3 linked regions of the Homo sapiens genome follow. The protein of the gene in region 2 purifies or fractionates together with the protein of the main gene of each other region. This does not show direct contact. Each region holds a gene or a part of one and is shown on either strand. Other genes may lie near its edges. The genes, in order: ABCB10, SLC38A12 and UBAC2.

The links.
Region 1: the proteins of SLC38A12 (region 2) and ABCB10 purify together in Homo sapiens (affinity purification with mass spectrometry; one large-scale study listed by BioGRID and IntAct). This does not show direct contact.
Region 3: the proteins of SLC38A12 (region 2) and UBAC2 purify together in Homo sapiens (affinity purification with mass spectrometry; one large-scale study listed by BioGRID and IntAct). This does not show direct contact.

The regions. Positions count from the first base shown.
Region 1 is NC_000001.11:229,548,653-229,552,304, reverse strand, and holds part of ABCB10 (ATP-binding cassette sub-family B member 10, mitochondrial), read left to right. Parts: intron 1-2,720; exon of another isoform or gene 2,721-2,870; coding exon 2,871-3,071; intron 3,072-3,652.
Region 2 is NC_000017.11:74,782,966-74,786,617, reverse strand, and holds part of SLC38A12 (transmembrane protein 104), read right to left. Parts: intron 1,137-3,652; coding exon 1,015-1,136; intron 1-1,014.
Region 3 is NC_000013.11:99,378,813-99,382,464, forward strand, and holds part of UBAC2 (ubiquitin-associated domain-containing protein 2 isoform 1 precursor), read left to right. Parts: intron 1-3,652. UniProt on the Homo sapiens protein: Restricts trafficking of FAF2 from the endoplasmic reticulum to lipid droplets.

The sequences.
Region 1 (3,652 bases), on a different chromosome or scaffold from region 2:
GTTTATGGAGCAAGTCTAAAGTATTCATTAATATCAGAAGACAGTGATATGTAGTCAGATCTTGATTAACAAGAATCCAGTTAACTAAAAGCCAAAAAATATTTTACTTTTCTTACATTCAAATTGGACAAAGAAGCAAATGACAATAAAACAAGCTGATAATTTTTAAATGATTATTAAAAAGTAAAAGTGTGGGGGGATATCCTGAAATTAATTTGGATTCAGCTAAATTACTTCCTCTTTGTAATCAGCATTATTACTATGTGAGAACAAGACTCAGAATCATAATTAGGGGGCATTTCATTCATGTCATATGGATTCGTATTGTAGAATCATAACTGATTTAGAAAACTAGAGGAGGAGGGAAGAGGTGGACCTTTATATAGCAGGTCACATACACTGTGCTTTCGGAATTATTCACTGAGGCGAAAGAACAGAGATTAGCTACTGATGAAGGACAAAAAGAATTTTCTGCTGAATCCTGAATTTGCCAGGATGACTCTTTCTGGAGCTGCCAGTTCATCGAGGCTGAGGTACTCGGAACCTCAAGTTAGACACACTCCCTGTCCTTTGGGCCTTCAAGCCCCTTTGGGCACTGTTGTAAGAAGCATGGTGCTTTGAAACAAGACCCCGGGCTTTACGTCAAAATGAAGTGACCCTTGCCCAGCTTCCTATTATTCAGTTAGATTGTGATTATGGGATTTTAAGCCAGGCATATGGACTTTATGAGCTGCCAGAATTCACATTTCTGCTTAGGCTATTGAAGAATTTTGATCTGATAGACGTTATTGCTTCCATTGCCAAAGTTCAATTTATTTGTTTGTTCATCCAACAAAATAGTGATTGAGATTCTCCTATGTGCCTGTCACTGTAGGCAATCAGTGACAAAGCAGACCAAAATCTTTTATGTCCTAATGGAGAGAGAAACTAAATAAACAAGTGAAACATTTAGAATGCTGAAAGGTAGGAGCTTCGAGAACACAAATGGAGAGGGAGTGAGGTGGGTAGTGTAGGGTGTCTGTATTTTAAGTGAGGCTGTCAGAGCAGGCCTTTTTGGGGAGGGGACTTTATAAAGACCTTAAGGAGGGGCAAGAGCAATTTTTCTAAATGTTCCCCACTTAAAAAGGCCCATGTTTTTCCTAGAACTCTGTTTGTCGACTAAATGTCCAGTTGGCACTGAGTTTGCTCTGGACTCTTTATTAAGGTTATATAACAGTAATACTTTTTGCTGGGTGCAGTGGCTCATGCCCACAATCCCAGCACTTTGCAAGGCTGAGATGGGAGGACTGCTTGAGGCCAGGAGTTTGATACCAGCCTGGGCAACATAGTGAGACCCCCATCACTATCTTTTAAAAAAATGCATTTGTCTTATTATGAATGCAGTTATCTGTGATATGTGTTGTTACTAATTGGATTTTCTTTTCTTTTCTTTTTTTTTTTTGAGACAGAGTCTTGCTCTGTCATCCAGGCTGGAGTGTAGCAGCACAATCTTGGCTCACTGCAACCTCCACCTCCTGGGTTCAAGCGATTCTCTTGCCTCAGCCTCCCAAGTAGCTAGGACTACAGGTGCGCACCAACACACCTGGCTAATTTTTTGTATTTTTTTTTTTTTTTAGTAGAGACAGGGTTTCACCATGTTGGCCATGGTAGTCTTGAACTCCTGAGCTGAAGTGACCTACCCGCCTTGGCCTCCCAAAGTGCTGGGATTACAGGCGTGAGCCACCATACCTGGCCTATTTATGTGGATTTTCTAAAATTTTTTTTTTTTTTTTTTTTTTTGGAGACAGCATATTGCTGTGTCACCCAGGCTGGAGTGCAGTGGCATAATCATGGCTCACTGCAGTCTCGACCTCCTGGGCTCAAGTAATCCTCCTACCTCAGGCTTCTGAGTAGCTGGGACTACAGGTGCATGCTACCACCCTGGCTAGTTTCTGTATTTTCTGTAGAGACAGGGTTTTGCCATGTTGTCTAGGCTGGTCTGGATCTCCTGGGCTCAAACAATCCACCCACCTCAGCCTCCTGAAGTGCTGGGATTACAGGCATGAGCCACTGTGCCAAGCCAATATTTTCTCTTCAGATAAGACTCTATCTTGTTTGCCTGTTTTTTAGGTGCATGAACAATCCTGTTCATATTTATTTTCATATCATGTTGATATTTCGCAAAGCAATAATACAATATTAAGAAGCAATATATCACATGTTTTATTGACATTTGCTTCTGTGTAATGATCCGTGAAACGGTTTTCCAAAAGTTATCTGGAATGGGTTGTTTGTTTGTTTAAAGCCTGCAGCACCTTGTATTCCCAGGCAGTCTCCCATCCAAGTACTAGTGAGGCCTCGCCCTGCGTAGCTTCTGAGGTCAGACAAGATTGGGTGCGTTCAGAGTGTATGGCCGTAGACAGAGTGTTTTGAGATACTAGATGTAATCAAGGGCTTTAACTAGACAGCTTGATCTTCAAGTTACAATATAGTTAGATGCCAAGGAGTATAGCATGTATAGCATGAATGGAGGAAAAATACAATCTGATGAACACCAAAATCAAGAGATGGGGAGGAAGGGGCTGGCCAGAACGGTTCCATAGTTGGCTCCCAGTTTTTCTTGGTGAGGAAGAGTTGATCAGACTAAGAAGTCATCTTCTCTGATTCAGATATGATCACTCACTTCCTTAGTCAACCTGCTTGTTCTCACCTGGAACCATTTGGTTCTTCCCTTGAGTCAGAGATCGAGGAGCAAAAGGGAGGAAACTGCTAGAGACTGAGATCAACGCATACTCTGACAACAGCTTATTTGGCAAGGAAGCCTCCTGGACTCAGCACCGCAGCCCCTTTGCTGAAGCAACCTGAACATTGAGAGTGCTTGTGTTTTCTAGCTGCGGTTGGATTTCTCACGATGTCCAGTGTTATCTCCATGTCTGCCCCTTTCTTCCTGGGGAAGATCATTGATGTCATCTATACCAACCCCACTGTGGACTACAGCGACAACCTGACCCGCCTCTGCCTAGGGCTCAGTGCCGTGTTTCTGTGTGGTGCTGCCGCCAATGCCATTCGTGTCTACCTCATGCAAACTTCAGGTAACAGTCTCTCCTCTCAGGGATGTGAGTCATCCTGAAGAAGATGTAGAGTCCTGTGGGTTTGTTCGGGCTCAAATCTCATGTGCTCCAGGCTCCATTCTCTTCCTCTCTTCCTGGCATCCCATTAAGTGGGGATAGAGTCCAATGACTGCCCAGATGTTGGAGTTACAGATTATTTTAGATCAAGCACTCTCAACTCTTCTTTTATAGTTGAAGTTGAGCTGTAAGGGCAATCATGTCGGTCTTATGGGAGGTTTGAAAATAAGCCCCTCGGGCTGGGTGCCGTGGCTCATGCCTGTAATCCCAGCACTTTGGGAGGCTGAGGCAGGTGGATCATGAGGTCAGGAGTTCGAGACCAGCCTGGCCAACATGGTGAAACCCCGTCTCTACTAGAAATACAAAAATTACCCGGGCGTGGTGGTGTGTGCCTGTAATCTCAGCTACTCAGGAGGCTGAGGCAGGAGAATCGCTTGAACCTGGGAGGCAGAGGTTGCAGTGAGCCCAGATCATACCACTGCACTCCAGCATGGGGGACAGAGCGAGACTCCATCTCAAAAAAAAAAAAAAGAAAAAAAAAGAAA
Region 2 (3,652 bases):
TTAGATGCAGCCCTCCCTGACCCTGCTTCAGCCGGCATCCTAGTCCCCTCGCCCTGTTACGCCTTCCTCTTTCCACAGCACTCACTGCCTTCCGGCTCACTCTTCCATTTACCCATTTATTATCTTCACTGCTCGCTGTCACTTCTCCCCACAACATAAAGTCAAGTCTGCACAGGCAGGGATCTTTGTGGTGAGGCCCCCTCAGTACCCAGAAGGGTGCTTGGTGCACAGATGGGGCAGGGTCACCTCTCAGGGGAGGTGTTTCCAGGTGCTCCTTCCCATCTCTTTTTTGCAGCTTGTGGATTCCTACCCGGTTGAGAGAATGGAAATGCCTAGTCCTAAACCCCTTCCTGGCCTGGGGCACTTGCTGACAACTTCAGACTAGTCCCTACGTGTGTGGGAATCCCCGAGAAGAGCCTCAGGTGGAACCCACCCTCCCTGAAGCACCGGCTGGTGAGGCCCACACACCTGGCTCAAGGAGTAGGCGTCCCTGAAGACCTGGGGAGGTACACAGCAGGCGAGTGCCACACTTGATCGTGCACCCAGGCGTGTGTTTATCACCTACTTCGTGAATTACCTTAAGTAAATTCTAAATTCCAAACTGATTTCCCATGTCACCTTAAATGTTTGTTAGATCTTTTTTCTGTGGCTGGGTGGTATTTTCTCAGACAGCAAAACTTGATGGTAATGTTAATAAAGCATACATTTAATAGCAGGGAGGTAAACCTGCCAGGGAAGAAATAGGCCAGCATCACGTGAAACATTCCAAAGCCTAGTGGATGTCCAGGTTTTTATCTGATCAGGGCTGTGCAACCGCTCCACAAAGACAAGCCACCAGGAGGCCTCTGTGACCACTTTCCCCTCTCTGAATACCCTGGCAAGGACTCACTGAGCTCGATACGGGGTAGACAGGTGTCTTCCCACCCCCTCAGTGCCCTCATGTTCGGGCTTCCTGGGCTGACTCCCTCCTGCTCCACTCCTGGCCCCTGTGGGGAAGTCCCCGCTGCCTCTCACCTCATGAAGCCCAGGAACACCAGCAGGACGAGGCTGACAAGCCACCCGGCAGTGGCGAATGCCTTGGGCATGGTGAGTGCGCCCGTGCCCACGATGAGGTTAAACATGTACACCAGCCCAACCTGGAACCGACAGAGGCAACATTCAAGCCCGGAACTTAATCAACTTCTCCCCTTAACAGCTCCCAAGGAACGACCCTGGTGATGGCACCACTGTGGAGGCCAGAAGGCCACACTGTAGACAGGGAAGGAGGCAGGACAGGAGAATTACACCTGGGGCCTAAGGAGCCAGGCTTGCAACCACAGAGCCTGTTAACCAAACATGAACACATGGATGACTCAAGCCCTGGGGTTCAGTTTCAGTCTCTGCTCCTGCTGTCATCATTGCCGTCCCCTCCTAAAGCTGCATCGCAGATGCTAGCGCTCTACTCAACCAGGCTGTAGGCTTCCCGGGGACAGAGCATCATAGGCGGGGTACCTGGCACAAAGGTGAGCGCATAATGCTGACCTCAAAGAAACACCCACTTTTCCAAGATCACTGAGCATGTGACTCAAGGTCCTCGCCATTGTCCTTTGGGACACGGATATTCATGCTTCTCTTTCTCCACCCCTCTCCCCATACCAACTTCAGGGTTTTTAAAAAAAAAGTTGAGGCATAATTCACATACCATAAAATCCACCCATTTAAAGTACACACATCAGTGGGTTTTAGTAATATTCACAAGGTTGTGTGACCAGTGCCACCAGCTAATTCCATTTTATCACCCCCCAAAAAGCCCATTTCCATTAGCGGCCACTCCCCATTCTTCCCTCCCCGCTTGCCCACCCAACTTCAGGGTGATTTCTCAGGTCACTGACTTCAGGTTTTAAACAACCCACAGTTTACAATGATTCCCTTTCTAAGATCTCAACCATGAATTTCCTGTCTGACCTGAGTTCCTCCCCTTCTGTGATGCTCTCCAGTCCCCCAGCCTCCTCCCCTGCCAATCCTCCCTCCCAGAAGCCCACCCCTATTTTGGCATCATCTGCTTCCTTTCTTGGTGCAATCGGCAGGCTCCACCAAGCACACGCCTCCTTTCCTGGTGTATTTCTCTTAGTATCAACCTTTCTGCAGACCTCAAGTCCAGCTGCCTGCTAGTCACCTACACCTAGACATCCATCCCATCAGTGGCCCCATCCTCCTTCCTTCCCCTCCAGATCACAGTTCTAGTGATTTTATTTCTGGAGCTTCTTTAGTGGCTAACTCTGGCTCCTATCCTTATTTACAATTCAAATGAGTCTTTCCGGCCTGGACTGGTGCAGTAGACTCCTAACTGGTCTTCCTGTACTCTGCTAAATTGGGTGACATACCGTATGCTTTACCACCTGTTTCTGATCATTAAAAAAGACAAACACCTCATCTCTGGGAATGCTTACCCATTTCTCATTTTCACTCCTGTTCTTAGAAAGATGCACTTTTCTCTATTTTAAAGCTTTTCTGAGATAGCCACATGCTGAATTTGTGATAGAAACACAAAAATTGGTGCCCATTCTCCCAGACTCCATCAATTTTGTTTTTTTTTTTTTAAAGCATGAAGAGGACGGATGCAGTGGCTCATGCCTGTAATCCTGGCACTTTGGGAGGCTGAGGTGGGTGGAACACGAGGTCAGGAGTTTGAGACCAGCCTGTCCAACATGGTGAAACCCTGTCTCTACTAAAAATGCAAAAATTAGCTGGGGGGTGGCGTGTGCCTGTAATCCCAGCTACTCAGGAGGCTGAGGCAGGGGGATCGCTTGAACCCGGGAGGTGGAGGTTGCAGTGAGCCAAGATTGCGCCACTGCACTCCAGGCTGGGCAACAGAGCGAGACTCCGTCTCAAAAAAAAAAAAAAAAAAAAAAAAAAAGAAAAAGCATGAAGAAATAGAGATTGCCAACTCCTGCCTTGGAGCTATTGGCTGGGAGAAGGAGGGGCTGGGCAGTGGTTAGAGAAGACAGGCTTCCCAGCAGGTGCTAACTGGATATTTGAGAGCAGGACAAAAGGGAGGCCACCCTGTGGAGAGGAAAGTGCTCTGCCTGCAGTACCTGAATACCTGACACAGGACCAAAGCCCTCTTGTGCCACCTCCCCAGCCCCTCCAACTCCTACCCAGCCTTCAGGGCCCATTCCAATGCAACTTCTACCACAAAGTCCTTCCCAGGCTCCCAAAGTTGTCCTGCCTCCCGCCTTTGAATCCTTGTGGCAACAAAACTTCTTATGCCCTCTCTTGGGTTTTAGATATTGGCATATTTCTCTTTTCCCTGTTACTAAATATGAAGCTCACTGTGGCCGTGGGCTGCGTCTCACTTCTCTCTGCATTTCTCAGGGTGTCTGGCACACAGGCTGGAGATGGGAACACCCAGCTGATTGCACTGGACCCTGCTTATCTCTGACGTGAGTCTGAGAGTCTTCACCATCCAGTTTTGGATGTCACAATCTCAATTTTTATTTTTATTTTTTGAGACGGAGTCTCGCTCTGTTGCCCAAGTTGGAGTGCAGTGGCGTGCTCTTGGCTCACTGCAACCTTGCCTCCTGGATTCAAGTGATTCTCCTGCCTCAGCCTCTGGAGTAGCTGGGATTACAGGCACCCACCATCATGCCTGGCTTAATTTTGTAGTTTTAGT
Region 3 (3,652 bases), on a different chromosome or scaffold from region 2:
CCATTCATTTGTTGCTAGCATGTTGTTCAAGAAGGTACTTTTATATTTATCCTTCATTGATCTAAGAATACCTTGGCCACATGGCTGAATTAATGGAGTCACATTTGGGGAAAAGTACATGGCATAAACATGATTTTTGATGAGATGTCAGCTGGAGGATGAACAGAAAAGTTGTCAAGGTATAACAAAATATTTCAGTCATCATCCAGCCCAGCTTCCCTGCAGTGAGCACAAGCCACAGGTCCAAAATGTTTGTGAGACCAATCAGAAAAGATATCCCTAGTTAAACATGCCTTTTTGTTAGCATAATAATGGTCTGGTAAGAAATTCGCTGCTTGAAAACAGCAAGGACACAAACTTTTGCCTGTCATGCAAGTTTACGCTTATGCATGCCTGCTGCATTAGCACATCCCAGCAAAGTTGTTCTGCCCTTGATGTCCTCAGTTCCTGGAGGGGCTGTCTCATTAGCTGTAGTTGTGTCTTTCTGGAGCAATAAAACCAAAACAGTGATGTTCCATCAGCATTATAGACTTGTTCTGGCATCAGATTTTTGTCAGCAATGACCTTGGCAAACTCACCAATGAATTTCTTTGCTGCTTCATGATGCTTTGTCACCACATTAAAAAATTTGGTTTCATGTTTTTTCTTAAATTTCTGCAGCCAACATGTTGAATATTCATAGTTCCTTTTCATTTTCAGTTCCTCATCCTGATAGATCCTTGCTTGTTTCCTGACCCACATAGCATTAAGTGGCAGGTGTTCACTGCAACACCAAGGGATCCATCCTCGGTACATGATCAGGATCTTCATTTTTAGCTTTATGCAGTGTTTCTCTATTTTTCATTAATTTCTGTTTATCACTTTTAGCACAGAACTTCAACAGTTTATCCTTCTGTTTCTTCAGATCCTATATGGTGGTCACTCCAACACCATACTCTCCTGTAAGACGTTTCACACTTACACTGCTCTCCACTTTCTCCAACAGCTTGACTTTCTGTGCTATAGATAAACATAAATCTTTTTCTTATCACTGTTACCCAGAGGGTATCTGCACACCTTTTAGATATTTTAACAACATTTTTATAACACAGAGCAGAAAGTAAGCAAAAAAGCACAGTGAGTGACGCACGTGGGTTTTGGCCCCATGCAGGTCATTGTGGGGAACCTGCCCACTGGCATGTGCTTGCGTGGGGGAGTCGGGGCATGTGCAGAAAAGGCATGTCACAGCTGAAGGAGGGTGAGAGGGTCTCTTTTCCCTTGGAGACACTGAATAAACTACATGTTGTGGCCTGCATTTTGACTGCAGCCCATCACATGAGGTCAGGTGTGGAACTTGCCATTTGTACTGCCATGTTGGTACTCAAAAAGTTTCAAATTCTGGAGCATTTTCGATTTTGAATTTTCAGATTAGGAATGCTTAACGTGTGTTTTGCTTACCTGACTGCACGTCTGCGCAGGCCTCAATTTCGTCTTTCTGTAATTTGAGCACAGGAGTTGATGCTTCACATGCCGAGTAAGCTTTCCCAGGAGAGACCGTAATGAGATGTGTGGGGACTGGGCGTGCTGGGCTTCTCTGAGCAGAGGAATAGTGAGAGCCACAGCAGTAATTGTTAGTGTCCACCAAAGAGCCCTACAGACAACTGTTCTCTGTGCTGCTAGTTTTTGCTCCAGTTCTTACTGTCTATATGGTGAACCTCTGAAACTACATAAAGAAAGGACAGCAGGGGCCACTTGGCTAACTTGCACGGCTGTGAGCACTGCACTGCACCCCTCCACTGGGGAGTATTGGGTAAGCACCCATCGGAACACCTATCCCCTGACCCTTCTCGTCCTTGCTGGCTGGTTGTCATCGCATACCCAAGCCCAAGCATGCAGTTTCAGTTTGCCATGGATGTTTAGTTTTGGACACTATGGGAAACCTTCAGGTGCCCTTTCTTAGTGTAATTGTTTATTCTTTTTAAAGAACTGTGCTAACATTATTGCTACTTAGCAATAGTTTTTAATCTGGTGAAAATAACAGGTCAGTGGGCAGTGAAAGTTCTCCTGTCACACTTGTCTTCTCACCCATAAAAATCACTTAAAGCTCTGAAGCCAGCTTTGGCTAAAGGGGCATGATCTGCCCCGCAGAGGATGAAGAGCGAGCCCGCTGCAAGCTGTGACAGCAGACGCTCTCTTCTGCCAAGACCTGTGAAAAGCCAGTCTTAGTTGTCAAAACCAGCACCGCGGCACATGTCGTTCATGTCTGAGAGAATGAACTCAGAAGGAAGTCTCGTGTACATAGAAAGCTTTCGTTCTTACTCTAGGATGTCACCTACGTGACTTACAACCCAGCCCAGCCATCCCAGACCTAAGGGGTTCTTCCCTCTCCAGGGCAGGGCCTGCATGCAGTCCATGCTGCTGCCCTGTGTTGGTGACCTGTGTGTAGCCAGCCCATTATCAGCATCCTGTGGATTCCAAACCAAATGTATCATCAGTGGAGGGAGAGCTCAAGTGCCAGGTGGAGCTGTGGCCTAAAGTCACACTTCATCACTCCAGATTATGAATCGTCATTTGCCAGATCTCCAAATTGCTGAGTGTGGACAGCAAATGGATTCGTTTGTGCTGGCTGGGTGCAAAGAAGCAGCCAGTCCTCAGCTGCACTTGAAGTACTACAGGTAGTAGTAAAGGTAGCTTTTCCAAGCCGTTTAAATAAACGTCATTAAGAGTGGCCAAGTTGTTTGGGGGCCATGGCATCATGGTGGTGGATAGTAGGTGGAAGGAAGGCAGGCCAGCTCCCGTTTGGCCTGAGTTATCTCCACCAATGACAATGGTCCTTAACTGGAGGGAACATCATACAGGTTATTTCCACCCAAGATTGGAAAGACCACCTTGATCAGAGAGAGTTTTCCTTCCACATGACACATATCCAGCCTGAGTCCTCCAGCCCCTCTCCCTGCACAACCTGATGGAGGCTTGAGAAAGCACAGGGAGGAACACTTAGCTTGAAAATGTTCCTAAGGAAAAGGAAAGTGTGAATTCTGAGAACCAAGTGGCAGAATTGAAGTTTCACATCTGGCAAAAGCTTAAACAGATTATTATCAAATAGATGGTTTGTGAACGTTGAAAAGACAGCTGTGGTCTAGGACACCAAACCAATCCTGTTGGCAAGAGATCACCAAGACCTTTGACAACATCTCATCAGCTTATGAGAGATGTTGGTGACATGCAGAATGGATAATGATAGTGCAATGAAGTGGGTTTGAAACTGATTAAAAATGTTGATTAACCCCTTGAACACAGAGTTCTGGGCTCTTTGACCTGACGTGTTTGACATTTTCATCAATAATAACTTGAACAAAGTTGTAGAGGTTTACTAATCAAATTTAGGCATGATACAAGTTTGAGGGAGATGATTAACAGTAGATAACAAAATGAGAATTGAAAATAATTCATTTTGGTTGACTGGAAAATGATCAGATGGAATTTAACAGAGATATGTAGAGTCCTAGACTTAAAAGGTCAGGTAGGATTTGAGAGACCTGACTTGACAGCATTTTATGTGAAAATTCCTGAGTGTTTTCAGCAGGCCCAGCTTAACTGGCCACACCAGTGATGCAGCTCCTTACACAAGTGCATGCACAGGCACACACAACACATATGCACACTACTAATG